Regions from separate parts of the Homo sapiens genome. Here regions 2, 3, 4, 5 and 6 are each reported to be linked to region 1. Evidence: microRNA targets listed by miRTarBase, many of them from high-throughput screens and not tested one by one. Region 1 holds a microRNA gene; each other region holds the end of a gene's coding sequence. Distances are from middle to middle.
Evidence for each region. Region 1 holds the annotated microRNA hsa-miR-6805-3p (UUGCUCUGCUCCCCCGCCCCCAG, at 1,475-1,497, shown strand). A microRNA usually pairs through its seed, bases 2 to 8, with sites in the 3' UTR of a target mRNA and lowers its output. Matches are read on the target gene's strand: a 7mer-m8 pairs with bases 2 to 8, a 7mer-A1 pairs with bases 2 to 7 and ends in A, and an 8mer does both.

Region 2: the mRNA of RMND5A is a reported target of hsa-miR-6805-3p. Seed matches in the 3' UTR shown: 7mer-m8 at 3,019-3,025.
Region 3: the mRNA of PLEKHM3 is a reported target of hsa-miR-6805-3p. Seed matches in the 3' UTR shown: 7mer-A1 at 2,036-2,042.
Region 4: the mRNA of RAB11FIP1 is a reported target of hsa-miR-6805-3p. Seed matches in the 3' UTR shown: 8mer at 3,145-3,152 and 7mer-m8 at 2,747-2,753.
Region 5: miRTarBase lists GPR155 as a target of hsa-miR-6805-3p. Seed matches in the 3' UTR shown: 8mer at 4,059-4,066 and 8mer at 3,193-3,200.
Region 6: the mRNA of FFAR2 is a reported target of hsa-miR-6805-3p. Seed matches in the 3' UTR shown: 8mer at 3,630-3,637.

Annotation. Positions count from the first base shown.
Region 1 is chr19:55,386,746-55,391,833 of GRCh38, forward strand. MIR6805 (microRNA 6805) reads left to right here and starts at 1,436; the gene lies at 1,436-1,497. RPL28 (ribosomal protein L28) reads left to right here. Exons shown (of 5, transcript NM_000991.5): 4 at 1,185-1,303; 5 at 1,498-5,088. The coding sequence ends at 1,587.
Region 2 is chr2:86,773,145-86,778,144 of GRCh38, forward strand. RMND5A (required for meiotic nuclear division 5 homolog A) reads left to right here. Exons shown (of 9, transcript NM_022780.4): 9 at 204-4,897. The coding sequence ends at 267. Among named protein-coding and RNA genes, the nearest start is that of CD8A, 15 kb to the right of the region's middle.
Region 3 is chr2:207,823,826-207,828,913 of GRCh38, reverse strand. PLEKHM3 (pleckstrin homology domain containing M3) reads left to right here. Exons shown (of 8, transcript NM_001080475.3): 8 at 418-5,088. The coding sequence ends at 595. Among named protein-coding and RNA genes, the nearest start is that of FZD5, 56 kb to the right of the region's middle.
Region 4 is chr8:37,858,110-37,863,197 of GRCh38, forward strand. It overlaps RAB11FIP1 (RAB11 family interacting protein 1), which reads right to left. Exons shown (of 6, transcript NM_001002814.3): 6 at 509-5,004. The coding sequence ends at 4,786. Among named protein-coding and RNA genes, the nearest start is that of BRF2, 11 kb to the left of the region's middle.
Region 5 is chr2:174,431,443-174,436,530 of GRCh38, forward strand. GPR155 (G protein-coupled receptor 155) reads right to left here. Exons shown (of 16, transcript NM_152529.7): 16 at 129-4,974. The coding sequence ends at 4,674. Among named protein-coding and RNA genes, the nearest start is that of SCRN3, 38 kb to the left of the region's middle.
Region 6 is chr19:35,449,752-35,454,839 of GRCh38, reverse strand. FFAR2 (free fatty acid receptor 2) reads right to left here. Exons shown (of 2, transcript NM_001370087.1): 2 at 3,073-5,088. The coding sequence ends at 4,133. Among named protein-coding and RNA genes, the nearest start is that of FFAR2, 4.0 kb to the right of the region's middle.

The DNA.
Region 1 (5,088 bases):
GCTGTGATTTTTTACTGTCAGGCAGGAAGAGCGGTAACTGCCATCGCGGCGGGCATCCCTGGCGCCAGGGTGTTGGTCTGGGTACCGGCTTCCCTCTCGGCCGACTTGTCAGCTCTGTGAGCCGCGCGCGTCTGAGCCCGTGTCCTCACCTGTAAAGTGGAGAAATGAAAAAGGACCTGAACTTCCTCGGTGGTTGTTGAGAGTTAAGGCACGGGGTTGATGTTTTCAGATGAAATTCTCAAAGCAAGTCAGGGTGGGGATGGATGGTTTCATCCCACAGGTGGGAAGATTGAGGCACAACAGGGGAGGGGCCCTCGCTACCACACTTAGGAGGGGACAGGCTGGGTTGGTTGCAGCCATTTGATTCCCATTTTGCCTGTGTAGGTTAGAGAAGAGGTCTTGGGGACCCCACTCCATACATTGTGCTGTCAGGTGCAGGCCTTTTTGGGGATTCCCTGAATGTTCGTGTGAGTCGGGGGTCTCTAATGGAGGAGTCCAGCTTCACATGTGTTCTTGACAGGGCTGTATTTTCTTTTTAGAGTGAGTTTTTCTCAGGTCCTTGATTGGAACTGCCTCAGAGCCAAGGGTCCTTTTACTCAGTGGCAGCAACAAACGCAGTCTGTTGGCTAGTGATCCTCCTGTCTCAGGGACACGTAGTCCAGGGAGCAGCCAATTGCTTGGCACTTGGGGACCCCGTTCTGGGGAGTCCTGAAAGCTTTCACCTCTTGGATTGCCGAATACATGGGTGGCCCTTCCTAGACTAAGGGACTGGCCTGAGTGAGGCTGGGCCTCTCAGCCAAGCTGATGTTGAACCACTGCTGTGGGGATGGGCCTGGGGTTCCTGGGAAGCTGTTCATACCCATTGCCAGGAGCGTGGGCTCTGGCTGGACCTGGATCAGATCCTAACTGAAGCGGCAGCTTTCTGGCATGAGAAAGGAGTGTTTTCATGGTGGACAGAATTGGGCTATGAGTGTGGCAGAAGCTGTGTCCTCAGTACTCCGTGATGACGAGTGAGCCTCTGTGAAATGGACAGGTGGGAAAACAGCTACCTGCTGGCCTGCCCAGGCACCCGCCACGGGCCCACGCTGCTCAGCTTCTCAATGTGAGACTGTCCACACCTGCGAGGTGTGCTAAAGGTGCAGGTTAGGTGGACTGACCCCAGGACCTCCCTGACCCCCAACCAGGCCAGCGGAAGCCTGCCACCTCCTATGTGCGGACCACCATCAACAAGAATGCTCGCGCCACGCTCAGCAGCATCAGACACATGATCCGCAAGAACAAGTACCGCCCCGACCTGCGCATGGTGAGCTGGGGTTTGGGGATCAGGCTTGGGGAGACTGGCCAGTGCTGTGGGGAAGGGCCTCCCACTACTGGTTGCAATATGGGCTGGAGAGGGATGGATTCTTGCTTTCAGCCTACTCCCCACACCCAGCATTGGCCTAGGGGGCGGCTTGTGGAGTGTATGGGCTGAGCCTTGCTCTGCTCCCCCGCCCCCAGGCAGCCATCCGCAGGGCCAGCGCCATCCTGCGCAGCCAGAAGCCTGTGATGGTGAAGAGGAAGCGGACCCGCCCCACCAAGAGCTCCTGAGCCCCCTGCCCCCAGAGCAATAAAGTCAGCTGGCTTTCTCACCTGCCTCGACTGGGCCTCCCTTTTTGAAACGCTCTGGGGAGCTCTGGCCCTGTGTGTTGTCATTCAGGCCATGTCATCAAAACTCTGCATGTCACCTTGTCCATCTGGAGGTGATGTCAATGGCTGGCCATGCAGGAGGGGTGGGGTAGCTGCCTTGTCCCTGGTGAGGGCAAGGGTCACTGTCTTCACAGAAAAAGTTTGCTGACTTGTGATTGAGACCTACTGTCCCATTGTGAGGTGGCCTGAAGAATCCCAGCTGGGGCAGTGGCTTCCATTCAGAAGAAGAAAGGCCTTTTCTAGCCCAGAAGGGTGCAGGCTGAGGGCTGGGCCCTGGGCCCTGGTGCTGTAGCACGGTTTGGGGACTTGGGGTGTTCCCAAGACCTGGGGGACGACAGACATCACGGGAGGAAGATGAGATGACTTTTGCATCCAGGGAGTGGGTGCAGCCACATTTGGAGGGGATGGGCTTTACTTGATGCAACCTCATCTCTGAGATGGGCAACTTGGTGGGTGGTGGCTTATAACTGTAAGGGAGATGGCAGCCCCAGGGTACAGCCAGCAGGCATTGAGCAGCCTTAGCATTGTCCCCCTACTCCCGTCCTCCAGGTGTCCCCATCCCTCCCCTGTCTCTTTGAGCTGGCTCTTGTCACTTAGGTCTCATCTCAGTGGCCGCTCCTGGGCCACCCTGTCACCCAAGCTTTCCTGATTGCCCAGCCCTCTTGTTTCCTTTGGCCTGTTTGCTCCCTAGTGTTTATTACAGCTTGTGAGGCCAGGAGTTTGAGACCATCCTAGGCAACATAATGAGACACCGTCTCTAAAATAAAATTAGCTGGGTGTGGTGGTGCACCGCCTGTGGTCCCAGCTCCTCAGAGGTTGAGTAGAGGCTGAGGTGAGCGGAGCACTTGAGCCAAGAGTATGAGGCTGCAGTGAGCCCATGAGCCCCACCACTACACTCCAGCCTGGAAGACACCATGACACACAGTGAGGCCTGGATGGGGAAAGAGTCCTGCTGTTGATCCTCACATGTTTCCTGGGCACCTAACTCTGTCAGCCACTGCCAGGGACCAAGGATCCAGCATCCATGGCACCCCTGGTTCCTGCCATCCTGGGGTACCCGATTCAAAGAAGGACTCTGCTCCCTGTCTGAGACCACCCCCGGCTCTGACTGAGAGTAAGGGGACTGTCAGGGCCTCGACTTGCCATTGGTTGGGGTCGTACGGGGCTGGGAGCCCTGCGTTTTGAGGCAGACCACTGCCCTTCCGACCTCAGTCCTGTCTGCTCCAGTCTTGCCCAGCTCGAAGGAGAGCAGATCTGACCACTTGCCAGCCCCTGTCTGCTGTGAATTACCATTTCCTTTGTCCTTCCCTTAGTTGGGTCTATTAGCTCAGATTGAGAGGTGTTGCCTTAAAACTGAGTTGGGTGACTTGGTACCTGCTCAGGACCCCCCGCACTGTCCCAATCCCACTCAGGCCCACCTCCAGCTGGCCTCACTCCGCTGGTGACTTCGTACCTGCTCAGGAGCCCCCACTGTCCCAGTCCCACTCAGGCCCATCTCTGGCTGGCCTCACTGCGCTGGGACTCCGCCTTCATAAGGAGAGCTCACTGCTCACGTTAGTAGATGGCCCCTTCTCGTGAGGCCTCTCCCCTGGCACCTGCTTCAGTTGTCCTCCACAGCACTGATTTGCAGCCCACAAGCTGGCAGGTTTATCTGTCTCATGTTTGTCTTGTGCTGGTGGGCAAGGGGTTTGTCTAGCACACCAGCATATAATGAGATGCTTGATGAATGGTGCATATTGAATGTATAAAGCCCACCGGTCCTGAGAGTTTGCTCACTGGAGACTTTCTGGAGATGGAGTCTCGCTCTGTTGCCCAGGCTGGCGAGTGCAATGGCGCGATCTTGGCTCACTGCAGCCTCCACCTCCTGGGTTCAAGCGATTCTCCTGCCTCAGCCTCCCGAGTAGCTGGGATTACAGGTGGGTGTCACCACACCCAGCTCAGTATTGTATTTTTAGCAGAGATGGGGTTTCACCATTTTGCCCAGGCTGGTTTGGAACTCCTGACTTCAAATTACCCACCTGCCTCAGCCTCCCAAAGTGCTGGCATTACAGGCGCTCGAGGCTTTCTGATGTGGCTGCTGCTGCTCAGAAGGCCTTGTCCTTAACCACCTCCTTGCCTGCCCTGGAGGCTTGTGCCTCTAGGCCCCACCCCCTGTGGAGTCCTGCTGGCTTTCTCCATCCCTATCTGAATCCTCCCTGCTGTGTGGCCTCCCCTGGTCTCATCCGTAACACAGCCCAGCTTAGTGGGCCTCTGTTCCTGCGGGTGGCCAGCCTGTCTGTGTGGCTGGGCTGGGGAGGCCACGTCTGGTATCTGAATGCTATCGGTGGGTTGGGGTGGAGGAACCAGGAGAGGGCTGGAGGGAGGGAGATGGTCTCAGCCCCACAGAGTTTGGAGTCCTCAGTGTGCTGAGCAAACGTGGAGACACCATTTCCCTCCTCTAGACCTCATCTTGGAGAGAGAGATGTTGGATGGGGCCATCTATTCCAGCTTTATTCACACAAATCATGTCTGTTGGCCTGGAAATTGGAAAACCAGTTAAACCAAAAACATGATATTAAGAAAACAGGCAGGCTCACCATAGTAAAAATGCTGAAAGCCAAAGACAAAATTGGGAGAACAAAAGAAAAGCGTCTTGTCACATACAGAAGGTCCCTGATAAAGTTAGTAGCTGCCCTCATCAGAAACCAGGCCCAGGCAGTGGGGACACATCCAGAGTGCTGAAAGAACCTCCCCCAGGTCATCCTATCCCCAAGAGTGATGCCCGGCAGCATTCCCAGCTCAGGGCTAATGGTTCACGGAAGCCAGGAATCAAACTGCCTGGGTTCCAGTCCCAGCTCTGCCAGTTATGCCCAGCTGTGGGGACTTGGGCAGCTCGTTTAGTAGCACCGTGCCTCAGTTTCCCATATGTAAAAGGCCATTTTGAGTGCCTTTCACAGCCCTGCATAAGGCAGGTGTCTCAGTGTTCACTGCTGTCTCTCCAGCTCTTAGTCCAGTAGCTGCATGGTGAGTGAGCGTAGGGCGCACCCTGGAAGGCTGCCAAGCCCAAAGTTGTGCAGAGCGCTGGGGACTCCAGACTCCCCACAGCAGCAGAGACTCGGGACTGAGGCATCCTCTGTTCACAGGACATGCTGGCATCTACTGGGTCAGGGCTCTGCTGCTCGGTGGCTGTGCAACCTTGGGCAAGTTCCTCAACCTCTCTGTGTCTTCGTACCCTCATCTGTAACATGCGTGTCGATAGACCCTACTACTCAGGGTTGATGAGAAGATTAAATGTGCAAAACCTGCTTGACTGTGCCCACAAATCCTGATTGTAGGAATAAATTAATGACTTTTTATAAATATTTTGATCAGATGGACTCATGATCACAGATGTCTTCACATGCCTATGACTAATTTGTACAC
Region 2 (5,000 bases), not on the chromosome of region 1:
GGTATGTATTTGTGACCCTTCAAATCTTGGCAGTTATATTAAGGGAAAGCATAGTTCATCCTCAAAGCAAAATACAAACAGACTTGTTTTTGTGTGTTCTTATATGTGTGTATAATTGTTAAAGATACTCTATAACTAGATAAAAATTGAATACACAGTACTGAGCCTGCTCCTTCACTCAGTGTTTTCTTCTTTGTCTTTAGATTAAAATGTCCCTACTGTCCAATGGAACAAAGTCCAGGAGATGCCAAACAGATATTTTTCTGAAGAGATAACTTTAGTTTGCAATTTGTAAGTGAAACTGAATCGTGGGTGCATTTCAGAAGAGAACGTTCCATATAATGCAGCTAACCAAGGACTCCTGTGTTTCTATAAGCTAATGCTCCAGAAACTTTGCCAACCTGTTAGTGTACACACACTGAGGGGAGTGCTCCCGGTGAATATTATCATAGGGCTTTATTATATTCTTGGTCTTCATTTCTGATCAAGTAAATACACCAGCAGTTGTCATTCAATGCAGGTTTTTGTACTTAATTATATGGTGATTTTTTTACTTTTTAAGAGCAGAAACGGAAATTGACCTCCCCGCCATGTGTTTAATATTCCTCCTGCTTTTACTTTTGTCATTTTCTTGATAATCGTAAGCCTTGAGAGTGTTTGTGAAAAAGTTTTATTTCCTGTTATGTATACATAATTAAATGAAAATTCTTCAGAAAAAGTTTGATAAATTGAATTGTGGTTATGAAACTAATTTGCATTTTTATTTGCTTAAGAAAGAAAGCTGTGATAGATTCCAGATATGCTTTTTGATGTTTTCCTCTGCTCCAGCTCCAAGAAGTCAGCACACCTGCATTTTAGCTCTGCATGCAGCCCCAGCAGGCTGCGTGTTTAAGAATTTCATTGTTTAACTGGCTGGTGTGAGAAGTCTTCCGTTAGCATAGAGTGGAAGGAGTACTATTGTTTGGTTGGGTTTTTGTTTGTTTGTTTTTTGTTTTTGCTTTTATTGCCAAGAGGTGCTTGTTTTAAAAGTATGTTTAATAAAATGAAATTCTAAAGTTAGAAGTGTTCTTAAGTTGATATTTACTCTCTTGGTCTTGGTAGCCCTATTATATCATTGCAGACACAGTGTTGTGCATGTGTGTATTGTATATGTGCACCAGCATCAAACATTGTGTATCTGGAAGGAAAGCAGCATGTTCCAGTTCTAAAATGCAGTTACCAGACCCATCACTTTAAATCCTTAAAGTTAGAAGCTAGCAAATTTTCTGTAGTGCAGAACGTTTATTGCTGTTTTTGTGTTTGAATAGTATAATGTTTGATGCCTCTCTTCTGCAAAGCGTATCATCTCATTGACTGTGAATCTGTATATTATTCTGATGGATACAGATAATGATCTTTTCTCTTGTGAGGTATCTTCATTTATGCACTGTCCAAAAATAGCCATGTGTAAGAGTCTTTCTGTATGACGAACTACATGGAAAAGACTTCTGTGGACATAATTCTGACCGAAACCCATGAAGTTACTTCAGTATAAGAAGAACGTTACACGGAAATCACCAAATATTTTGCAACTTTATTTCTTCTGACATGGAGTGAACATCAATAGGAATACTTTCAAAGAAAATGAAAACACAGAAGCAAAGAGAAATGTGGCACTTCACATTTTAAACTACAGATGGACTTGGTTTGAGGGAGGGGGAATCACAGATTTGGTGCTAAGTTAATTAGAAACTGGCAGCGTTTTACAGTAGTACACCAGCCTGGATGTTTTTTCTAAAATGTTTACCTGGGAGAGCTGGGGTTTGTTTGTGAGGAGAAAGAGTACTGTGGAAAACCTCTGCTTGAGTACCATGTGGCCAGGCCTATGTGGATGGCTACTCCGTGCTGTGCGGCTTCACCAGCGGTTGGGATTGGCCCAGCTTGGAGTGCTTGTGTGGTCCAACCTCAGTCTGGCCCCATAGCGACTTTTGCCCCATGATTCTGCTTCACTGTTGGAATCCTCTTTGAAGTTCCCCCTCTCTTTGCTAAAGCAGTGAAGGAAGAGAACAGAGACAAACTCTTTGGACTGTGAAAGAGAAGGTAGAGAATTCCAGGCAACAGTCTGACCAAGGGTGTAAACCAGTTTATTATATATATATTTTTCCTTTGAATTAAAACCTAGAGTGTTGTATTTTTCTTTCTTTCTTTTTTTTTTTTTTTTTTTTTACCCTTTTTCTCCTTAGGCCAAGTTTAGCTTATTCTTATCTTTCCACCCAAACACCTACACAACGTTTAGGCTTCCTGTAAGGTTTGAATGAGACAGATGTACTCTGAAGGCTGGTGGTAAATGTGTTTGATGACCAGACTCTTCATACAGTCGGCTTGGGCCACTTTAAAGGACAAAAGCCAGAGCTCAGCTTTATCCCTCTCCCAGTGCTGGGAGCCAAAAAACTGTTGACGGTTTTTTGTGCAGCTCAAGAAAACTTTGAAAAGAACATGCTTTAACTGAAGCATTGGACTCTGCAGCTTTCTGTGTAAGGCCCGTGTACTCCCACTGGGCAGGGTGAGGACCAAAAATCTGAAACTCTTATGAATCTGACATATTATATGGAAATTATATCTTGTGACCGTCTTCAAGTGCATGGACTTAAAATTCATGAGAGACTAAATGTGAGGGAGAGGTGGATTTAAAGAGGCCAGACCTTAACCAAAGATGCTGAGATACAGCATTCTGTCCCCCCTGCCCTAGAAACTCCATAAATGCTGTCACAACCCTATCATCGCTGATGCTTTCTGCATGTCAGCAGTCCAGGAGGATGCTTTTTGTCTCTCTTTGCCTCCACTTTACAAAAGATAATATGATAGAGGCAACGTTTATAACAGTCACATTTAATTATAATGTACATCAAAGGCAGAATTTCAGAATGGTTTCTTAAATTTCCTTGGGAACCGTTTCCACATATCAGTTATAGACAAAGGCCATGGGACTATGCTAAACCAATAAAACCTTATTAGCAAATCTTTAGATTCTGACTTAGCCAGAGCATCTGAGTGTTCAAGTACAGTTTTACAGTGGCTAAGGTTGTCTCTTGATCTTTTTTCTCCGTTGTGTGATCACAGATGCTATTTCTGTTTTATTGGTGATTATACGAGACTTCTAATACATAAATGAACGGGTATTGGTGCCTCTTTATTTTAAAAAATTTGAAGAAAAGAGCCACCTCATATTCATAGGGTGTGTATTTTTTGAGTGTGAGCATTTAATTGAAAATAAGAAAGCTATGAAGTAAATGTTAACTTCTCTGTAGCAGCTAATGCATAGAGACACTAAAACCCACACCACATTTTGTGGGAAATGAGGATCCTGATCCTCTTTTGTCCTCTCCAGGTAGTCTCGCAGGTTATGCAGCTTAAGTTCAGTCTTCTTTATGCTGCGATTGATTTCCACCTCAGTGGCTTAGCCTTTGGGACAGTGGATACTGCAACAGCCAAGAACTCTTGGTTATCCGCACAAGCTGCTGGTAGACTACATTAGCCCTCTGGTTTTCCAGCTCAACCTCTGATAAAGTGGACTGAGAGCCACGCTGCTCAGTCTGTTTCGTCAGCCGACTCAGGTTATTTTCAGGGAAGGCATGGAGGCATAGTTTGGTTAGTTTCATCACTAGGATGTATAAGGTGACGACACAAACCAAATACCTTTCTTTCATCACTTAACTATACGTACTTTATCTCTGGTAACACTAGAATGCTGTGGTCTTGAGGGAATGTTAGCAAGGAACACATAGAAGATTTGGTGTTTCATAAGCCTGTCTAGGTGTGGCAGGTTTTGTGTGGTACACTGATGTTTACCATAAGCAGGTACAAGCTTCATGAACCGTTCTTAATGAACTATAATTGAATAGATACCAAAAATAGAATGACAAATGTATTTTAATAGCAGATGAGGCAGTTTTAGGATGAATTTTCCACTGTTGATTTTACTTCAAGACATAGCAAGAGAAACAAAATTTTGTTTTCAAGACATTTCCACTGCAGTTTCAAGCTGTAGTGGGCATATGCTTCATTTACTTCCAAAGAGGCAAAAGCAGCTGGAATTGGCTTACAGCACATGCTTTGTTTCATGTTATGGGTGAGGACCTACATACACTCTTACTTTAGCAGTCACTTAACCTTCTCCAGCAAGGCAGTTGTGGGGTTCACTAGGATTTAGTGCCTGATCTTTTTTTTGGGAAGGGGCGGGAATGAATGTGTTGGGGCTGGGAGGGAAGCAGAAGAAAATGGGAGTGTGAGTGAGTGTGCATGTGTCTGAAGTTCACCATTGCCCCCACCTGCACCTAGCAAGGAACAGGTGTTTGATGTATTTTGCTCATGACTGCAGTATGCATGTATTTTTTTCCTTCTCTGTGTTTTCTAAACTTACACTAAAGGATTCATCAAATCATCTTGTTCAGATGGCTCAGGATTGTATTTATTTTGCTTACCCCGTGCTCTTGGGTTCTATAGTATTTCTATAATTATGTAACGAGAATAGTGTTGCACTGTAATCTATCATATAGAGCTATATGTATGGAAAATTTTGATCAATTTTTTAAGAAATGTATCCTGTTTGCAAAGGCACAGTAAAGTTGCATCTTATAGACTATAGGCAATAAAGCTAACAATAAACCTTATTTAACACAAACCACATCCATATCCTCTGTTCATTTGATTTTGGAAAAAGTAGCATATCCAGTAGTTTCAGGGAATTCATTTTAACTTTAAGAATTCTGATATATTTAATTTATAAATTTCGGACTGATATAATAGAGTTTTGGAAAACTATAAGAAATGCTTTGTTAATGTGTGTATTCCTATGTAAAACACATGGCTTTTCCTGTGTATATTTTTAAAAATTAAAGAAATGCACATTTAAAAAGTGTTTTGTGGAACCAGTCTGTATAAATGTGCCAGGTGACAAAGGTATGAGGGAGGGAGTAGGGAGGTGCTGACTGTGAGAAGAGAAAATTGCTGTCTGTATTTGC
Region 3 (5,088 bases), not on the chromosome of region 1:
CTCGCCATGGATGTAACGCTGTGGCTGTCACTGGTGTGCCGAGCGTTTTCACGAGGCACTCCCCTCTCATTTTCTGTCATTTCACTCTAGAGTCACTGCCAATTCCCTTCTCAATGGAGAGCTTCTGGTGTTCTGTCCATTGTCACTATAACCAGAATTGCTGGGTGACTGCGGACTCCCCCCCACTCATAAGCCCTAGTTCAGATCAGAAAAGCAAAAATGTTTTTCAAGTGAAATTCAACCTTGAGCATTTTGGAAAAACAAACAGTTCATTTCAGTGAGTCATCTCCCTTCCCATTGGCAGGGTTGTCCAGAACAGTAGATTGTGCCACCAGCTGCACCTGAGGCCACAGGGCTTCCCATTTGTGTCTTGCTGGCTTCAGTCTTGCTCATCATATCCATGGTTGACTTTTGCAGGTGTGAAAGCTGTGGAGCCGTTTTCCATTCTGAATGCAAAGAAAAGTCTGTCCCCTGCCCGAGGTGTGTTCGCCGAGAGCTGCAGAAGAAGCAGAAGTCTTTCTGGCAGAGACTGAACATGGACGAGAGTCTAGAGGAGGCTTGCACCATGTTCGAGCTGTCCTACCAGAACACCTGACTCCAGCCGACCCGAAGGCCAGGGATTCACCAATCAACAATCCATCAGCCCCAGAGCGGCCTCCTAACTAGCCAGTTAGACCCCTTTGGAAGAAGAGTATGTATCCTCTTCAACTAGATATAGATATATATATTTATTTATATATACGCAAATACCTATACGTCCTGTACGTATGCTCTGTGTACATCATTGTCCAGACGATCCACAGAACCTCTGTGGCTCGAGAAACTACCAATAGCTGGATTACACTTAGCCAAGAATTTCAGCTGCTTGCTCCCAGACAAAACGTGGTATACACAATGCTTTATAGTTCAGACTTTTTTTTTCTCTCTGTCTCTCGGTACATTTTATTACCCAAGACACAAAAGGAAGCATTTCCTGCACAAAACAGTGCTTTAGGTTATTTTTGTGTTATTTATTTTTAGCCTTCACAGAGGCTGAGGTAACTGAGGCAGGCACCCATCATCATCTGTTTCATAAGAAAACCTTCAAAACACAAGAGACTGCTGGGTCCTTCCAGGACCTGGTGTCCGTGGCGCTCCCGCCTCAGTTCCTCCTGTGGAGGCGGGGAATCACGTAAGCAGAGCCGATGGCTGGAAACAGGAGCCAAGCCCCCTCTGACAGAAAGCATACACCCCTCATTTATGAGGAGGGCTGGTTCTGGTTTTGAAGTTAATCTCAGAAGTTTTTTTCCTGAGAAGAGAAGAAACCTCTGCGACCAATAACTGCGTGTTGTCGGTCTGTTTTTCGGTACTAATCCCATCACCCACCTAATGATGTGACGCTCCACCGTGTTTTCCAGGCTGTACACATGGCTTTCTTAACAGTTTTCAACGGGTGCCCATGGTTGATATTTATGATTTTTTTCATGATGCTGGCCGGAGGAAATGTCCTGGGGTGGTTGTTAAAGACATCGTCGTGTAGACTGGTAGATAAGGCTATCTAGTAAGTATATTCCCAAAGAGGGTCGTTTTAGTTTCTTTTCTCAGAATCCTGTGGAGGCAGTTCCTACCTATTCATTTTAAGTGCTTTATTTCTCGTTGTTCTTCCTGCACTTTCATTTCGACCTTTGTCAATGTGACCATTCTTGCTTTCTCATTTTTTTGTTTAAAAAATCAGAGTAATGTGGAACTTCAAAATACCAACTTTGGACTATTAAGAAAATACAAACTTACAAGTATAATTAATGAATTAGATCTAATATTATTTAAATAAATATATATATATACACACACATATATAATTGCCACCTTGAAGTAAAACAAAGAGTGCTAAAATAAATAATAGGAGTAAGAAAGAGATCTGCTTTGCTATTTGGCAGGTAGTGTTCTCCAGCTGCAGTGCCCTTGGAAGAGCACGTGGCAGTCACTGTGACCAAAACGGCAGGTAGGACAGCCCTGGGACCCTGACAGCTCCCATTCCTTCCCCTTAACTCTCCCTAGAGCAAGAAAAATATGTTTATAATGGAACAGTTCTCAGTAGACTTTATGAGAAGATTCTGTAGCTTTCGCGCTGAGCAGATGCCTTCTATGTCTTCATGGTTTAGTAGTTTTGCTGCTATTAGGATCAGTGGCTCACAACATACTTGGTACATTCAACCCCATTGCTCCTTTCCCCCACACGCCGCTTCCCCAAGACCCCAACTCATGATACTTCCATCCATCTAGAGATGTGACATTTCAGACTGACTTTTGTGCAGTTAGATGTAAGCATTTTACCTCTCAACCCACACCAGTTCCTTTGGCCCCAGGCCACACATTTCACCTTAATAGCTCAACACCATACATGCATTTATTTTCTGACTATACAGTAGCCGCAACCAAGGCTTGAAAACTTGTTAAAAGGCCAGGGCCCTATTCATGAGACGCCTGACGGTGCCTTTTACCCTTAGAAAAGCAGGTTGACTTTTCCCCCACTCTAGTTAAAGAGAATGTTGCACACAAAAGAAAAAGGGTGGAAAATCTCAAACACTTGGCAACAGGCAAACAAATTTGATCATCTCCTTTCCTCCTCCTCTTGGTAAAATACAGTATTTATATTTTCCAGCCTCAGAGAAGATAGCAGAACATGATCTTTCACAAGAGAATTATAGACCTGCTTATTATAAAACAGATGTGCTCCCATGGCAAAGTGCCTTCTCCCTCCGCCCCCAGCTCCCTGTCACTGTAGCTTACTTTTGCCTTCGCTGTAATTAATGTATCCGTGATTCCAACTGTCAGCGAGGCCATTCCTAGCACACTGCATTTGGAGACCTGAAGTGCAGTGCCATCTCCTCCCCTTGTAACATGTTTGCCCTGCATACAGAATTTCCTCTCCTAGCTCACAGGCACCCAGGGTCATACCTGCCGAGAGTCAAGGGCGAAATTCTGGATCCCCGTTCAAAACATCTTTGTTTTCACCAGTCCCCATTTAGAGGGCCCTGCTAAATACGAGCAGTCCCTGTGAACTCCTAAGGAGGACTTTCCACCCACATCATTTTCTGCTTATTTTCAAAAGGGAAACAAAAAATCGATGTGTTATCACCATCAGCTACCCAGAGCTGGGTCCATGTCCAGCACTCCTGTTTCCTCTCCTTTTCGTACCACCCTGACAGCTTGGTCGGTGCCAGCCACAGGCCTATGACATTCTCTGCCACCACCACCAAAATCTGATAGGACAGAGTGGAGCCAGCTTAGGAGTTGGGTCTGCCATGAAAATTCAAAATTGCTGTTTTCAGCCCAGAATACCTTGGCGCACATGAACGCCCTTACTGTTTTCAACTTTAACAAATTACTTGGTGCACTGTTAGGTAATTGTTCCACTGCTTAGAAACTGTCGAAACAAAAGCAAATCTGTGGATTACCACCTCTTTCAGACCAAACTAATACCTGCTTTTCCTCGTGTTCCATTTTTCATCCCATATTAAATATCTTGCACATAAAACATATGAAAAAATGGCCAATTAATCTCCTGGAGCTGGCAACTGACTCCGGGGAACCGCTTTTTGCTGAAAGGCTCATTCCCTAGTGTATCACTTGAGGAAATCCCTCCTAAAAGTGCCAGAAACTCATGTGTGAGATCGTCCAACCCTGGTGAAATGTTGGCATCTAACCCCGCAGTAAAGAAGCCAGTTCCTAAAATAGACCTCATTTTGCACCGCGGCAGGAAGGCCACAAAGTACTTAAAAAGCCGTCAACTGGAATGGGGGTAGTGTTCTTTCCAGGCCCGCTTTTTCCAAAGTTAAAAGCCTCTTTATATGAAAACCATGTAAACTCTCAGCAGCCCCCTTTGCTTCACTGCCTTTTCTAGGGAGTGCATTAGAGTCATTTTTACGTCTGTAGTGCTAAAGGGTCACCTAGTTAGGAGCTTTAACATCGGATTCGCTGAGAGGGTCATCGGTTTTTGATTCTTCTAGAGTAGGCCTCCACCAAGAAGGGAATACGTCTAATACTTGGGATCTGTGGTTTGCAACACAAGTGGTATCCCTCAGACTCCTGAAAAGGGACTATGCCGTGACTTCCTTCCGGCTGCAGTGAGATCCGAGGTGTTTACACCACCCTAGTTGCCGAATGCAGCCTTTGCTCAGCTAGAGTGTGTCCTCTGACGGAGCCTGGCCTCTGTTTTTGTCTCTGTGTGTTGTGTGTACACACTGAACGTGGACATCGGATAGTTCTTTTCTGTGCCTCCTCAGAGAGGCTTGGCTTCCAAACCTGGGAGTTTGTTCTCTACCCATTGGCTAGAAAAGGCCGTCCATAAATTAGTATATCCAGGTGGGACTAGCACGATGCCACGCACACTGAACATTTTCTGCAGAGGGGCGTTAGCAGTGGAAGTAGAGACACATTCTGGTCCTCCTTTAGAGTCAAGCCAATGCTGTTGCTCGTGTATTTGTGCACAATTATTCATCTCCGTTGATCTGACACACTCTCTTGAAATCACTAGATTATGAAACAGATCTTCACCTCCTGATTCCAATACTGCCTGGTTTCAACACAGGGGTTGTTTTATTTTTTTACTTCTCCTAGTAAATAGAGATGTGTATAATTTTTGCCCATTTTATTTCTTGAGTTGTCTGCACCACTTCTTTTCTTACTCTGAAATAATGTGAAAACGTGAAGTTGGAGCAAGACCTTGAAAGAGCCTCCCTCCTTTGCGTGACCTGAATCGGTAGCGGCACTCTCTGTTTCCCCTGCCTCCGTGTCACTTGTTAGTGATGGGCATTAGGAGCTTCATATGTTGCACACCTTGTATCACTCTTCCGACCCTGAGTCAGGTAGAGCTGTCTGCTCGAGGTCGAATCCAGTGATGGGTGACTAAGCTCTGCTCGGTTAATGTAAACAGACAAGTGTTGATTTCTGTCATGTGGAACGGTGTTTCGACAGTTAAGTCTAGCACCCAGTAGTCTCCTTATTGGTAGACGATTCTAATTTCATTGGATTCAAAAATCTCTGACTCAAGGGTCTTTCCTTAGTGCGTTTTAATGGGTGCATGGCTGAGGGAAAATCCAAGTCATT
Region 4 (5,088 bases), not on the chromosome of region 1:
AGGGTTGTTTTATTAAGAGATTTAATAAATAAAATAAAATTTATTAAGTGTCTTCATGTCACTACACATGGCAGTCGATGTCCACTTGGAATCACCAGGCCTCTCCACCAAAACCAGGGAGGCCTTCAGGGAAGCTCCCCCATCCCAGCCCAGGAGTCTCACAGGCACCGCCTGCCTCTGTCTCTCTACAATGTGACTCATCTCTAAGAGCAAAGGTATCACTTCCATTCCAAGAGGTCTGGGACCTTGGAGTGTGGACCACGTGCACCGCTCGCGGGGCAGGCACACCTCTCACCTCCTTGGGAAAGGCCTGGGGTTTGGAGAGATGAACTCCAGGAGACTCCTGTGCATCCCTAATACCCTCTATTCACACATGGACAAACTAAGTCAACTGAACAAGGACCTGGTTCCCAGATGGGGCAGTTGAGCCCAGCCTGAATTCAACTCATGCCCCCAAAGTGAAGACATCACTCTGTGGGAACCTGTGTGTGTGGTGGGGGTGGGAACTGAGGAAAGACCCTGTCCAAATGCTCAGCCAAGGGTACCGGCTGCAAAGGAAAAGGGGGCAGCACGTTCCAACTCAGTTTCTCTGGCCAGTGCCATGGTCCCTCAGGCCAAGATGAAGGGTGCATCCGAAGGGACCAGACATGTCCGTCCTCTTTGAGAAAAAGGGCCTTGGGACTCCTGGGAACCAGGCAAGATGGCAGCAACAGAAATCCCAGTGAGAGACCCTCATGGGATGAGAAACACTGGTCATCCCCCCACCCCCACCAAGAGAGGTTTTCCAGGAAGACAAAATAAATTTTTATTGCACCCATACCAAACTACAGACACAAATCTTTGAAAGGTAAGTACCATTTTATTTAGTGTTGTAGGAAATGTTGGGTTACTTCTTAAAAACGAAACCAAAGAAATTCAAAAGTCCCAAAGAAAGAAAGCAGGAAATAATAATTCTATAATCCAAAAACGTTGGGCGATCCTTCAGTTGGAGGAAGAGGGCGTCAGTTAAGTAGCTCACACAGTAGATATGGAGACACCATATGGAGATACGGAGTTAAGTTTGGTGGATACTAGGAATTAAGTTCTCCACCTAAGGCAATTAATTTTTCAGCCTTGAGAGATAATTAGTAGTTCTAGAAAAAGAAAAAAAGTTGACTGGGAGAAGGGTGGGAGGGAGGATGGTGCGTCATTTAACATTAAATTGCCTCTCTCTACAGTATGTGGCTGAGCATCATGGACCTTCCTCCCTCTGCCCCGTTGAGCTCCCACTGTTAGCAAAACTGAGAAGCACATGCCTGTGTCTTCTTCATACCGGCATGTGCACACACACCTGTATCTCCTTCATACAGGCATATGCAGAGCCCTCACCAATCGGGGTCCACAGCTGTTCAGTATGGCAAAGGGCAGACTTACTCCTTCATCCACTCTGCTGCCTTGATGAGGTGAACACACTGGAATAAGATGGAGGGCAGGATACCTGCCAAAGCCTGAGGCATGAGATGATCTGAAACAATTGGGCAAAGGCTGGACATTTCAAAAAGCTGACTTCCAACTGCAGTTTATGGGTATAGAATTTGATGCTTCCCTCAAGTCCTGACTGCTCTTTCTGAGGCAGCCAGGCTAGGCCAAGAAATGAGCTGCTCCAGCTTCTCCAGAGCACAGCAGCCTCCCAGGGCCTGTCAGCATCTGCAGCAGCTGGAAGGAGGTCCCAGCTCTTCTGAGACATAGGCCATTTGTAGGATTCTCCAGTGCTCCAATTCACTAATGTCTCCTAATGGCTCAGAACAGGCTAAAGCTTCTCCCAGATAACCCCTCCCCCAAAACTGAGTCCTCAGGGACAGTTGTTAACTGAATGACCTCCAGGTTATCTACTTTGGGAGGTGCAGGAATGCTATAAACTGAATTTTTTCCCAGCAGCAGCAGAAGCCAGGCACCCTTGAGTCAATTGTCCTTCATTGTCCAGAGCTACCAAGTGGCATTTCAGAGCACAGGAATTTACTCCTCCACCCAGATGTCCCTCTCATATGGACTGAGTCACACACCCCAGGTCCTAGCAGCAGACATCTCCAAACCAACATCCTTGTGAACACTGCAGATCTCTACGCCAGCTCTCCAATGGAAGAAGAACCACATAGAGCACACCTGCCCCCCAGGGCACTTGGACTATCACAGTAAAAATACATTTATATCAAGTAAAAAACATAATGCAGGACAAATATATACATGTACCTTTTCTTTCTTTCTTTTTTTTGAGACAGAGTCTCGCCCGTTGCCCAGGCTGGAGTGCAATGATGTGATCTCAGCTCACTGCAACCTCCACCTCCCTGGCTCAAGCGATTCTTGTGCCTCAGCCTCCCGAGCAGCTGAGATTACAGCTGTCTGCCACCACACCCAGCTAATTTCTGTATTTTTTAGTAGAGACGGGGTTTTGCCATGTTGGCCAGGCTGGTCTCGAACTCCTGACCTCAATCAAGTGATTCACCCGCCTCAGCCTCCCAAAGTGCTGGGATTACAGGCGTGAGCCACCGCGTCCAGCCATACATGTACATTTTCAGAGTTCAAGTGAACATACAGTTTTCTTTATAAGTATGTAAATAAATTTCATAGCACTACAAAAATACAAGTCATCTGAGAAGTTTACAGTGGTCCCAGTACTGTAGGAGAGAATTAAATAAAATAAAATAGCTGTAGATAATTAAAAGCTAATTAGATAAATCAAGTTACAGTATCATCCTTCAGATTAAAGTGCTCTGATATAACCAATGCCACAGCAAACGAAATCCTGGAAAGAGATTGCACTGCCAATGATTTTGTCTCTTAACCTCAATGTAACAAGGACACACATAAAAGAGATTCCTGATTTAATAACTGCTATCATCTTCACCCCCAACCACGCTATTAGCCTGTGATATTCTTCCCCTAGGAGAGATGTCAAGATTAGATGAGATTCTATCATAGCCAGGGAAAAAAATGAGAAATACCAGAAACATTCTAATTCCAGTCTTAAGTGAGTAACAACAAAATTACCTGAAAAATCTCAGCTGGTGCTTTTAGCTAAGAAGGAAGCAAGTGCCCTAGTTAAAAAAAAAAAAAGTCTATAAATCTAGTTTTAAAAATACAAATTCAAAAATAAGTATCATCTTCTTGCTCTGCACAGTTTTATAACAAGGGGGTAAAATGCTGGTGAGTCTATTCATGAGGGAAAATGGAAAAAAAGCAACCATTTGAAGGCTGAGGCACCTGTTTTCTACTGACTTTTAACTTTTATTAACTACATTAAGCCCTTCACTACAATTTCCCCAGTATCCCACAAATAATTTGGGTTTCCTTTTGGGCAGGGAGAGAAAGTGTTCAAAGGACAGACATGCAGATGCAGTTCAATCCCTTTGGGGTCCAATCCATGGTCTCCTGTCCCCTGTAGAGTGAAGGGGCTTCTTTTTTTCTTTTTAGTTTTTTTTAAGACAGAGTCTTAAAAAAATTGCCCAGGCTCTTTTTTTAAGAGTCTTAAAAAAACTCTTGCCCAGGCTGGAGTGCAGTGGCACGATCTTGGCTCGCTGCAGCCTCCATCTCCCAAGTTCAAGCAATTCTCCTGCCCCAGCCTCCCGAGTAGCTGGGATTACAGGCACGCACCACCATGCCAAGCTAATTTTTGTATTTTTAGTAGAGATGGGGTTTCGCCATGTTGGTCAGGCTGGTCTCGAACTCCTGACCTCAAGTGATCCACCCTCCTCGGCCTTGCAAAGTGCTGGGATTACAGGCATGAGCCACCACGACTGGCCTGAAGGGGCTTCTTCATCTTGGGGAGTTGGTGGACCCTGTCTCTGCCCCTTACAAGGAGTGTTGCTGAGGAAACCAGAGCACCGAGCAAAGGCACAGGGGGAAAAGGCCAAGCAATCGTATTGACATCATTCCACACCTGGAGAACTGTATTAGCGAGTGCGTGGACCACCCAATCCCCTAGCAAAGCGCTGAATAGGCTGGTCTAGCCAGCAGGAACCTGGCTGTCATAAGAGGAGGGGCTTTCACCAAGTTCCTCAAATTGAATAAAGAGTAATTCTTTTAATTCCTGAATTCTACTTTTCCTATCTCCAGTAGAAGGGCCCTGGATCTAAGCAGAAGGTATTTTAAGGCTAGAGAGTAGTAGAAGTCGATGTTTAGAAAAGGCCGCTTGTTCAAAATCTGAAAGGCATACTCAGAGGCTTTCTCTAAACACCTCTGTTCCCATCAAAAAACAAGACCCAAGTCTGAGAAGCTGGGTAGGTTTACATGGTATCAAAATTTAACATCTGCAGCCAAAAGCCACACCTGAGCTACTCAGAAGCCAAGAAAGTATGTGTATGTAACACAGCACCAATCGCATGGTCCTTTTCTCATTTAAAGCTTTCTCAGGTAAGCTTTAAGAGCTGGAGGATACATACTGAAAAAAAATCTCAGTATGAAAGAAAGAAAACCCCAGTGTTAAAATACATGAATACTTCCTGTGCCATCTGAATCTCTGGCTCAGGATCAGATCTTATGACCACATCTCTGGTGGGCATAAAATATTTACAACCTTGTTAAAGGCACAGTGGCATTTAAAACTAAAGCCTTGGGAATGTACAGTAAAAGATTAATTGTAATCATTAACCTGGCTTCCATTGGTAGAATTCACTCTTGCCGGATAACATGTGAGGGAGATGGTGATTCGGAGCCTGCTGGCTGGTTATCAGGCAAGGCAAGTCCTTGACCCCTGGAGCAGGTGAAAGTGAAGTCACAGAAACGTCTCGGTGTTTTTTTTCTGCTGATTTACATCTTTCCTGCTTTTTTGCCAACCTGAGTCGGGATGCGGAGGATATTGGGGGTTTCTTCCATGACCCTGACAAGCAGGTTGTCAATGTAGTCTTCCAGCTCGCGGACCTGGAACTCCTTCTTGCTTATCGTTTCCTTCTGTTTGAGGACCAGCTGAATCAGCTCATCGTGGGTCAGCTGCGCATATGCAAATGCAGGGTCCGAGGGGCTGTATTTCTTTGGAGGGGGGGAAATAGTTGGGAAAAAGGAGTTATAAAATTAGCACAGAAACCTAAAACCTAAAAGAAGTACAAAGGAGGA
Region 5 (5,088 bases), not on the chromosome of region 1:
AGCTTATATATGTTAATCATGAATCAAAAGTTTTGCTTTAGAAATAACTACATAGCCTAGAATTTTGGAGAGTTAGTTTCTTCTTGTAAAGTGTGCCCAAAACAGGTCTACAGAGCTAATGTTTTCTTTTTCATTAATTATTTCAACCTTTTATCATACCAATTGCAGAAATTTATAATCTCATCTTTTCTTGAAGAATGATGATAACATTTATGATCCTGAACTTTTCTCCAGCCATCACTCATGACAGGACTACCTATGTGCAGTGGCCTAAAGTAATTTAATATTTTACATGATGAGATATGAAGGGGCAAACACTAAGAGCCGCATTCTGCTGCGTAACAAACATATAAAACACTAGTTTCACATTTTTCTTGCTTTAGAAATTTACTGACCATTAATTGTTGTTCTCAAAATGCCAAATACACTTTGTCTTAGTCTAAAAATATTGAAAGCTAAGCACAAGCTAGGCATGGAGTTACTCATTGAGAGTTAAGAAAACAATTGACTATGCTGAAGAAAAAGAGATAGGTTTTAATCAAAATTTTATCATTTTTCTAGCTGTCACTCTACATATTGGAAATGATGAAATGTATGAAAAGGACTCAATGTCATATTGACTCATTCATAAAAGTGTTTATAGAATGCGTAATTGGGAAACCCTGTTTGCAGAGCCCAGAGTCATGAAGAACAGAACTCAGGAAACCCATTTAAGAAAACATTGAGAATGTATAGAAAAGACCTCTATGATGGCTTCTGCATTATTCAGATTACTCAAAGAAAAGATGTCAGTAATGCAAGTTAAAATAGGTATTTTATTGAGAAACTTGCTTTGTCAGTGAGAAAGTTAACAGTTACAAATATTTTCATTTAATAAAATTAGCATATTTTTAATTCTAAAAATGTCTCTTAAAAGCCTTTATTATCTGAAACTGCAGATCATTCTGATCCAGGGTTTTCTTTTAGGGTCTCCCATGGAAAAAGATATTGCAGATTCCATTCATGCAAATAACAGAAGTAGTATGACTTGTTCACAAACAAATTCTCCACTTGAGTTTCAGTTGTCTGCATGCATGTGAATTAACATCTTTATTACTGTAACTAGAAAAATCTCCTGGTAACAGCAATGAGGCCTTAGACTTACCCTTGAGCATTCAGAGTCATAATATGGTCTTATTAAAAAAGGAAAGTTCCGCAGCAAGACAATTCAGCTTAAAAACATCCCCATTCCCTAATCACAACTTAAAATTGGTATAGGTTAATAGTACACTAAAGTATAATTTATTTGTTATTAATAAATATACTAGGCTTCCATGCAGGTTTTTTTTTTTTTTTTTTTGCGATGGAGTCTCACTCTGTCGCCCAGGCTGGAGTGCAGTGGCGCGATCTTGGTTCACTGCAAGCTCCGCCTTCCGGGTTCATGCCATTCTCCTGCCTCAGCCTCCCGAGTAGCTGGGACTATAGGTGCCCACCACCACGTCTGGCTAATTTTTTGTATTTTTAGTAGAGACGGGATTTCACCGCATTAATCAGGGTGGTCTCGATCTCCTGACCTCGTGATCCGCCAGCCTCGACCTCCCAAAGTGCTGGGATTGCAGGTATGAACCACCGCGCCTGGCCCCCATGCAGGTTTTTAAAAAACTGTTTATTTGTTGCATTAAAAGGGCAATGACTCTAACCCTATAAATTATTTTATAAATAACTTTTTTACATGAGACACTTAAAGTATAATTAAATAAATATCTGAAACGTTTAAAATAAGTTAAACTAGCACTGACATCTAATAATTAAGATGCTCAAAGGTCATCTAAATAGATCTCTTTAATTTACTGAAGATAAAGTTTACCTGAAGATGCTATGGTCTAAATGTCTGTGTCCTCCTAGAATTCTTATGTTGAAACCTAATCCTCAATCATGTTTAACATCTGTTTTTCACAGGAGAATAGAAGCTCCATGAGGATAGGAATCATATTTGTTCCAACTGTTGTGTGCTCAGTGTTCAGATTGTGTCTGGAACATGCTAGATGCTCGATAAGTTATTTGTTAAATGAACATTCAAGTACTGATGGGAAGAATTTACACAGCCCCACTTCTCTGCCTGTAGAAATGTAAAGTTGAAGTCACATCCTCAATGTGTTAGTATTAGGAGGTAGGGCCTTTGAGAGGTTATTAGATCATGAGGGTGGAGCCTATTGAGTGGAATTAATGTCCTTATAAGGGGCCAATGAGACCAGTTCTTCCCATCTACCATGTGGGGACACAGCAAGAAGGTACCATCTATGAGCCAGAAATTTGCCTTACCAGACACTAGATCTGTTAGTGCCTTAATCTTGGACTTCACAGCCTCCAAAACTGTGAGAAATAAGTTTATGTTGTTTATAAGCTATCCAGTTTATATTTTGTTTTAGTAGCTAAAATATTAGACTAAGAGAAAAGGCAACATTTAGTAATTTTAAAAATTATATATTTTTATACATGGACACTTTAAAAAGACTAAATTCTAAATGTAATCTTTAGAATTTTTTTTTTTTTTTCTGAGACAGAGTCTCACTCTGACACTCAGGCTGGAGTGCAGTGGCACGATCTCAGCTCACTGCAACCTCTGCCTCCTGGTTTCAAGCAATTTTCCTGCCTCAGCCTCCTGGGTAGCTGGGATTACAGGTGCACACCACCACACCTGGCTAATTTTTTTTTTTTTTTTTTTTTTTAGTAGAGATGGGGTTTCACCACATTGGCCAGGCTGGTCTCGAACTCCTGGGCTGAAGCAATTCACCTGCCTCGGCCTCCCAAAGTGCTGGGATTACAGGTATGAGTCACCATGCCCAGCCTAGGTTTAGAATTTTTAAATATTGGCTTGAACTATATAGTTTTTTTTTTTTTAACTACAGGGAATAAAGTAGAAGTTATCCTGCATTACGATGCTTTGTTCAAACACAGAAATGATACATCATATGGCAATAATTTTGTTGATAAAATTCAAATTAATCTACTCAAATTATTATTTGTAGCATGAAAGTTAAAGATCAGATTGTACTTCTGCAGGACTGTGGAGATAATAATACATATGGAGGTTCTTATTCCTTTCCTTAATGGCATAGATTAGTAATTTGGGTAGAAAAGAAAAGACAAACTTTAAAAAAAAATAGTGCCTCTAGGTTTTTTTTGCTTGTTTTTTGTTTTTGAGACAGGGTCTTGCTCTGTCACCCAGGTTGAAGTGCAGTGATGTGATCTTGGTTCACTGCAACCTGCGCCTCCCAGGCTCAAGGGGTACTCCCACCTCAGTCTCCAAAGTAGCTGGGACTACAGGCATGCACTACCACACCTGGGTATTCTTTTTTCTTTTTCTTTTTCTTTTTTTTTTTTTTTAGTACAGACCGGGTTTCACCACGTTGCCCGGGCTGGTCTTGAACTCCTGACCTCAAGCGATCTGCCCGCCTCAGCCTCCCAAAGTGCTGAGATTACAGGCGTGAGCCACTAAGCCTAGCCCTCTAGTTTTTAAATGAGTACTATTTGTCAAGGAAATGGAAAAAAGAAAAAGAACCTCTTATTAGAATCATTAAAATTCTTTTTCAAGAGATGCTATCAAAAAATATAAAGTTGTCATAATTTAAGGTCCATCTCCTGCTAGTAATACACTTGCCAAATTTGATAATTTATAGGAACAGTTAATAGGATATTAATTTTGAAATTATAGTAAACAGTTGCAGAAAGCAATGATTATATAATGTTGGCATATTCGTATTATTTATAGTACAGTTGACCCTCCATATGCACAGGTTCCACATCCATAGATTCAATCAACCGCAGATAAAAAGATGTAGTCAGGCTTAACAATGGTTGCATCTGTAGTGAACATGTACAGACTGTTTTTCTTATTGTTATTCCCTAAACAATACAGTATAACAACAACTATTTACATAGCATTTACATTGTATTAGGCATTATAAGTATCTAAAGATGATTAAACTATATGGGAGAATGTGCATAGGTTATATGCAAATACTACACCATTTTATTAATTATTTTATTTTATTTTATTTTATTTTTGAGATAGAGTCTTGCTCTGTTGCTCAGGCTGGAGTGCAGTGGCACGATCTCGGCTCACAGCAACCTCTGCCTCCCAGATTCAAGCGATTCTCCTGCCTCAGCCTCCTGAGTAGCTGGGATTACAGGCACCCGCCACCACACCCAACTAATTTTTTGTATTTTATAGTAGAGACGGGGTTTCGCCATGTTGGCCAGGCTGGTCTTGAACTCCTGACCTCAGGTGATCCACCTGACTCGGCCTCCCAAAGTACTGGGATTACAGGCGTGAGCCACCATGCCCGGCCTACACCATTTTATATAAGGGACTTGAGTATCCTCAGATTTTGGGATCTTCAGGAGTCCTGGAACCAATCCCCTTGGATACTAAAGGATGACTATATTATATTCATTATCAGAACTTTAATTTGGTTTTCTCTTTTTCCTAAGTCAGCTTCCTATGTGTTTTACATACATGTAAAATCACAGACCCTGCGCATGTGGTGGGAGCACATCTTTTCACATTTTACAGAAGAGACAACTGAGGCTCAGAGAGGTTGCCTCTGTTAACTTGCCCAAGGTCACCCAGCTAAAAACTAATGAATACGCGGCTAGAATATGATTCCATGTAGGGTTCTCCCCTGCATAATTTAGGTCTTAGGGGAATGTGAGGGTGGGGATGAATGCTCAATTTCTTTATATCTTTCCTGTTGGAGAGTGTTTGCATTAATAGCAGGAGGACTCTGTTCAGGACTCTTTTGAAGAAATCTGTAAAACAAGTACTCATCCCGGAATTCATACTCGTTGGTAATATGTTGGATGACTCCCCCTTGTACCAGCCTGTCTCCGTATATCACAGCTTCACCACGGTCGGAGGCAAGGCCGACTTCAATTAGCCAGCTCACCAGGTCACAGCCACAGAAAGTTCCAGCAGAAGTCTTTGCACCACACCTGTGTCAAAGGAATGATTCACCCATATTTTCTGTAAATCTGGTATCAGCACTGCATGATAGAGGACAAGCAAGAAAAAATAGAAGGAAACAAGGAAAGACAGCATGGTAGTTA
Region 6 (5,088 bases), 20 Mb from region 1:
TCATAAAGCATGCCCGCCAGAGTGCCATGTTTACTGTGGCCATGGCAACACCTGGGCATTACCACCCCTTTCCATGGCAATGACCTGACAACCCAAAAGTTACTACCCTTTCCTTAGAAATTTCTGTGTTAACTGCCCCTTAATTTGTGTGCAATTAAAAGTAGGCAAAAATATGACTGCAAAACTGCCCTGAGCTGCTACTCTCTGCCTGTGGGGTAGCCCTGCTCTGCAGGAGCAGTCACGGAGCTGCAACAGGGCTGGAGCTGTAACAGGGCTGCTTCAACAAAGCTGTTTTCTTTCACCACCGGCTAGCCCTTGAATTCTTTCCTGGGCAAAACCAAGAACCCTCATGGGCCAAGCCCCACTTAGCACACCTGCTCTGCCTCAGTATCATCAACTTGTCTAGACATTATTTCTTTTCTTTTTATTTTTGAGACAGAGTTTTGCTCTTGTCGCCCAGGCTGGAGTGCAATGGCGTGATCTCGGCTCACTGCAACCTCCGCCTCCCGGGTTCAAGCAATTCTCCTGCCTCAGCCTCCCAAACAGCTGGGATTACAGGCATACGCCACCATGCCCAGCTAATTTTTTGTATTTTTAGTAGAGATGGGGTTTCACCGTGCTGGCCAGGCTGGTCTCGAACTCCTGACCTCATGACCTGCCCATCTTCGCCTCCCAAAGTGCTGGGATTACAGGCGTGAACCACTGTGCCTGGCCAACATGATTTCTTTTCATGTAATCCAATCAAATTAGCTTTTGTGGCAGCTGTAATACATCACAGACTCATAGTGCATGTACAGTCAGCTGAGAATCCCAGATTTTTTAAAACATATTACTGCCATGCTATCCGTAGTTGACTACCTACTATGTTATTTCTATTTTTTTTTTTTTTTGAGACATTCTCTCTCTGTTGCCTAGGCTGGAGTGCAGTGGCACGTTCTCAGCTCACTGCAACCTCTGCCTTCCAGGTTCAAGCGATTCCCATGCCTCAGCCTCCCGAGTAGCTGGGATTACAGGTGCCTGCCACCGTGCCTGGCTAATTTTTTGTATTTTTAGTAGAGATGGGATTTCACCATGTTGGCTAGGCTGATCTTGAACTCCTGATCTCAAGTGATCTGCCCATCTCGGCCTCCCAAAGTGCTGGGATTACAGGCATGAGCCACCATGCCCAGCATTATTTCCACTATTTTTAATGTTTACTTATTATATTTCTAATAAGTGAGGGTACATCTGTGTACATGGATTTATATCTTAGAACTACTTAATATTCTATGATTTCTCAGCAATTTTATTCATAGAGTCTTATTTTAATCCACAGAATAATCTTGGGAGGTATGTAGTATCCTAATCACTATGATTTAGAAATAGAGGCTGGAGGAGGTGGCTTGCTTCAGGCCATCCATTTAGTAAGTGGAATGGACACTGAATTCAGGGTTCTTATGGCACCTGTCCAGTCTTCTTTTGAAGGAGGAAAATAGAAAATGAGCTTTCAGTTCAGTGGGACTAATAAGGAAAGGTTTTCTGGAGAAAGTGAATATTGAGTGGATTTTTGTAAGTGAAGAAGAGGCAAGCACCAGAAGATGGGGGAGGGCCAGGTGTGGTGGCTCACATCTGTAATCCCAACACTTTGGGAGGCCAAGGCAGGAGAATCACTTGAGGCCAGGAGTTCAAGACCAGTCTGGGCAACACCCCATCTCTACACAAAATAAAATAAAATAATTAGCTGAGTGTGGTGGTGTACACCTGTAGTCCCATCTACTTGGGAGGCTGAGGCGGGAGGGTGACTTGAGCCCAGGAGTTCGAGGTTGCAGTGAGCCATGATTGTGCCACTGCACTCCAGCTTGGGCAACAGAGTGAGACCCCAACTCTAAAAACAAACAAACCAACAAAAAAACAGGTAGAAGAATGTGGGATTGAGGTGAGGGGGGATGAATAAGCAGGCAAGGTTTTTGAAGAACAAGTTCTTGGACAGATTTGGCTTCTGAGATAAGACAGCGATTCGCGACCCCAGCTGGCCACCTGGGGTGCTTTTTTGAAAAGCTCTCTTGCTGGGGCCCCACCTGCAGAGATTCTGTCAGTAGGTTGGAGGTGGCTCTCTGTATTATTTTCACACCTCCACATGTAATTCTGATGTACAGCCTGGGTTGCAAACTACTAGGTTAGGGGCTGGAGGTCATTTAACTAGAGAGAATGGTCTAGGAGTCCTTATTGTGGAAAAATGAGCTAGGCAGGTAGAACTGGAAGGGGAGAGAGAGGACAAAGCAAGGAAAAGAATGGTACAATATGAGTTCCTTGGGGGAAGCACTTTTTTTTTTTTTTTTGGAGACAGAGTCTCGCTCTGTTGCCCAGGCTGGAGTGCAGTGGCGCAATCTCGGCTCACTGCAACCTCTGCCTCCCAGGTTCAAGTGATTCTCCTGCCTCAGCCTCCTCAGTAGCTGGGATTACAGGCACGCACCACCATGCCCGGCTAATTTTTTTTGTCTTTTTAGTAGAGATGGGGTTTTACCATGTTAGCCAGGCTGGTCTAGAACTTCTGACCTCAGGCGATCCTCCCGCCTTGGCCTCCCAAACTGCTGGGATTACAGGCATGAGCCACTGTGCCCAGCCGGACGCATCTTTTTAAATTAAATTTTTAAAATTGAGAGACAGGGTCTCACTGTGTTGCCCAGGTGGGTCTCCAACTCCTGGGCTCAAGTGATCCTCCCACCTCAGCCTCCCAAAGTGCTGGGATTACAGTCATGAGCCCCTGCAACTGGCCAAGGAAACATTTTGATGATAGGAAAGCTCTGCAGGTTTCTGAGCAGGAGGGTGACATGTTTTAAGGCCCTGTGGCAGACAGATGACTGTGAATCGGAATCACCCTGCATCCTTTCTAAGTCCGGACTCTCTATTCATCCCTCGAAAGACGATTCCGTCAGTGCTCTCACTTCCTTTGCCCACACCACCTCTTTATCTTAAGATGTTTCTGTGGTTTCAGATGCATCACTTTTCCCCTTTGCTGCTGAATCTGGTTCTCTCTCCTATTTTTGCCCTCCCTGTGCTTGCAGCAGTGTTACAAAAATTGTGGACATTCACTTCAGAGTTTTATCATCTTTATTTTCAATTTGCTAGACCAGGTTGCTTTCCCCTGTATGAGGGAGTGCCAATCTCTGATTGCTGGGTACCAAACCACATCCTGGCCTGTGTGGGGTACCATGGAGGAAGGAGATAAGACCCAGACCCCTGGCAGCTCCCAGTTTAGCAGGGGAGACAAGACAACACATGAAAACAAACAGAGCACATCAAAAAGGCAACAGGTCAAACCAATGCAGGGAAACCCCTATCATTAAAGGTCTAAGCCCTGAGGCCTCCCTGCTCATCTCCAGGCTCAGAACCTTTCTGAGTCTTCTTTGACCTCATTTAGTATTTCTCTTCCATCTCTCTCTTGTTGGTTTATCTCCAGGATCAACCGCTAGAGCAGTGTCTAGGTGTTGCTTTGAAGCTTGTATCGAGATTTCTCTAGGACTCTCTGCTTCAGCCTGGCCATCCCCAACTACCAGCCACATCACAAGGACTGGACTTGTGTTAGCTACGCTGCTTCTCCAGCCTGAAGGTGCTTCTTTTTTTTTTTTTTTTTTTTTTTAAATGGAGTCTTGCTCTGTCGCTAGGCTGGAGTGCAGTGGCGTGATCTCAGCTCACTGCAACCTCCAACTCCCGGGTTCAAGGATTCTCCTGCCTCAGCCTCCAGAGTAGCTGGGATTATAGGCATGTGCCACCATGCCCAGCTAATTTTTTTGTATTTTTAGTAGAGACGGGGTTTTCCCATGTTGACCAGGATGTTCTCAATCTCCCGACCTCAAGTGATCCACCTGCCTCAGCCTCCCAAAGTTCTGGGATTATAGGCATGAGCCACCACACCCGGCAGGTGCTTCTATACCTAACTACTTCTTCGTGCATCTCTGACTTATGCTCCTTTGAGTAGGACAATTCAGTCAGGAAGGGATACCAAGCTGGTGAAAGGCATTTTTTTCAAAGTCGCAGTCCTGGGCTGGGTCTAAGGATTTCTGAATCTGGATGGGAGCCTTCCTGCTCCGCCTCTCCCAGGCTTCCCAGCTCCTGTGTAACCCAGGCGACCTCTGAAGGTCCAGGGAAACTGCTACTCTGTAGTGAAGTCCGAACTTGGCATCCCTTCTCCTTGACCCACACCCCTGTCCTCATTTGTCCCCTCTGCTGTGTCTTTGCCTCTGCGTCCCAACAGGGAGGAGCCCTGATTCCGCAGCACCTGCAGCCCTCTCCCAAATGCCCTGCGCACCACTGAAGAAGAGAAATAGAAGAGCAGGGGGTCCAGACTGGCGTTGAGTGAACTGAACACCACGGCTATTGACCGCCACCAGGGGCTTTTTCTCTGGTGATACCCCACCAGGTGGGACACGTTGTAAGGTCCGAAGCACACCAGGAAATTGAGCAGCGTCACCACAGCCAGCCCCACGGCTCGGCGCCGCCTCTGGGCCCCCACAAGGGGCTGGGAGAGCATGATCCACACAAAACGCCAGTAGCAGAAGATGGTGACTGCCATGGGGATGAAGAAGAGCACCAGGCACAGCTCCAGCCGCACGGGCAGCACCACGTCCAACTGGTTATCGGTGAAGTTCTCGTAGCAGGTAATTTCATTGCCACTTCTGACCTGCTCAGTCGTGTTCAAGTATTGAACGATGATCACGATGGTGCAGTGACCAAAGGACATAACCCAGGCCACCAGAGCTGCAATCACTCCATACAGAGGCCGGCGGGAGAGCTTGTACTGCACGGGGAAAGCCACTCCCAGGTAGCGCTCGATGCTGATGCCCGCCAGGAGCCACGTGCTGCAGTAGATGCTGCTGTAGAAGCCAAAACTCGTGAGGGCGCAGACGACCTTGGGCAGGTACCAGCGGAAGTTCGACGCAGCCTCGATGATCTTGAAGGGCAGCAGCAGCAGCAGGAGGAGGTCGGCCAGCGTCAGGCTCAGCAGGAGGATGTGCACAGGTGCAGGCTGGGGCTGGCGGATCCGCCCCACAAAGGCCCGCAGGGCCAGGAGGTTGGCAGGGAGGCCAGTGAGGAAGATGATGATGTAAG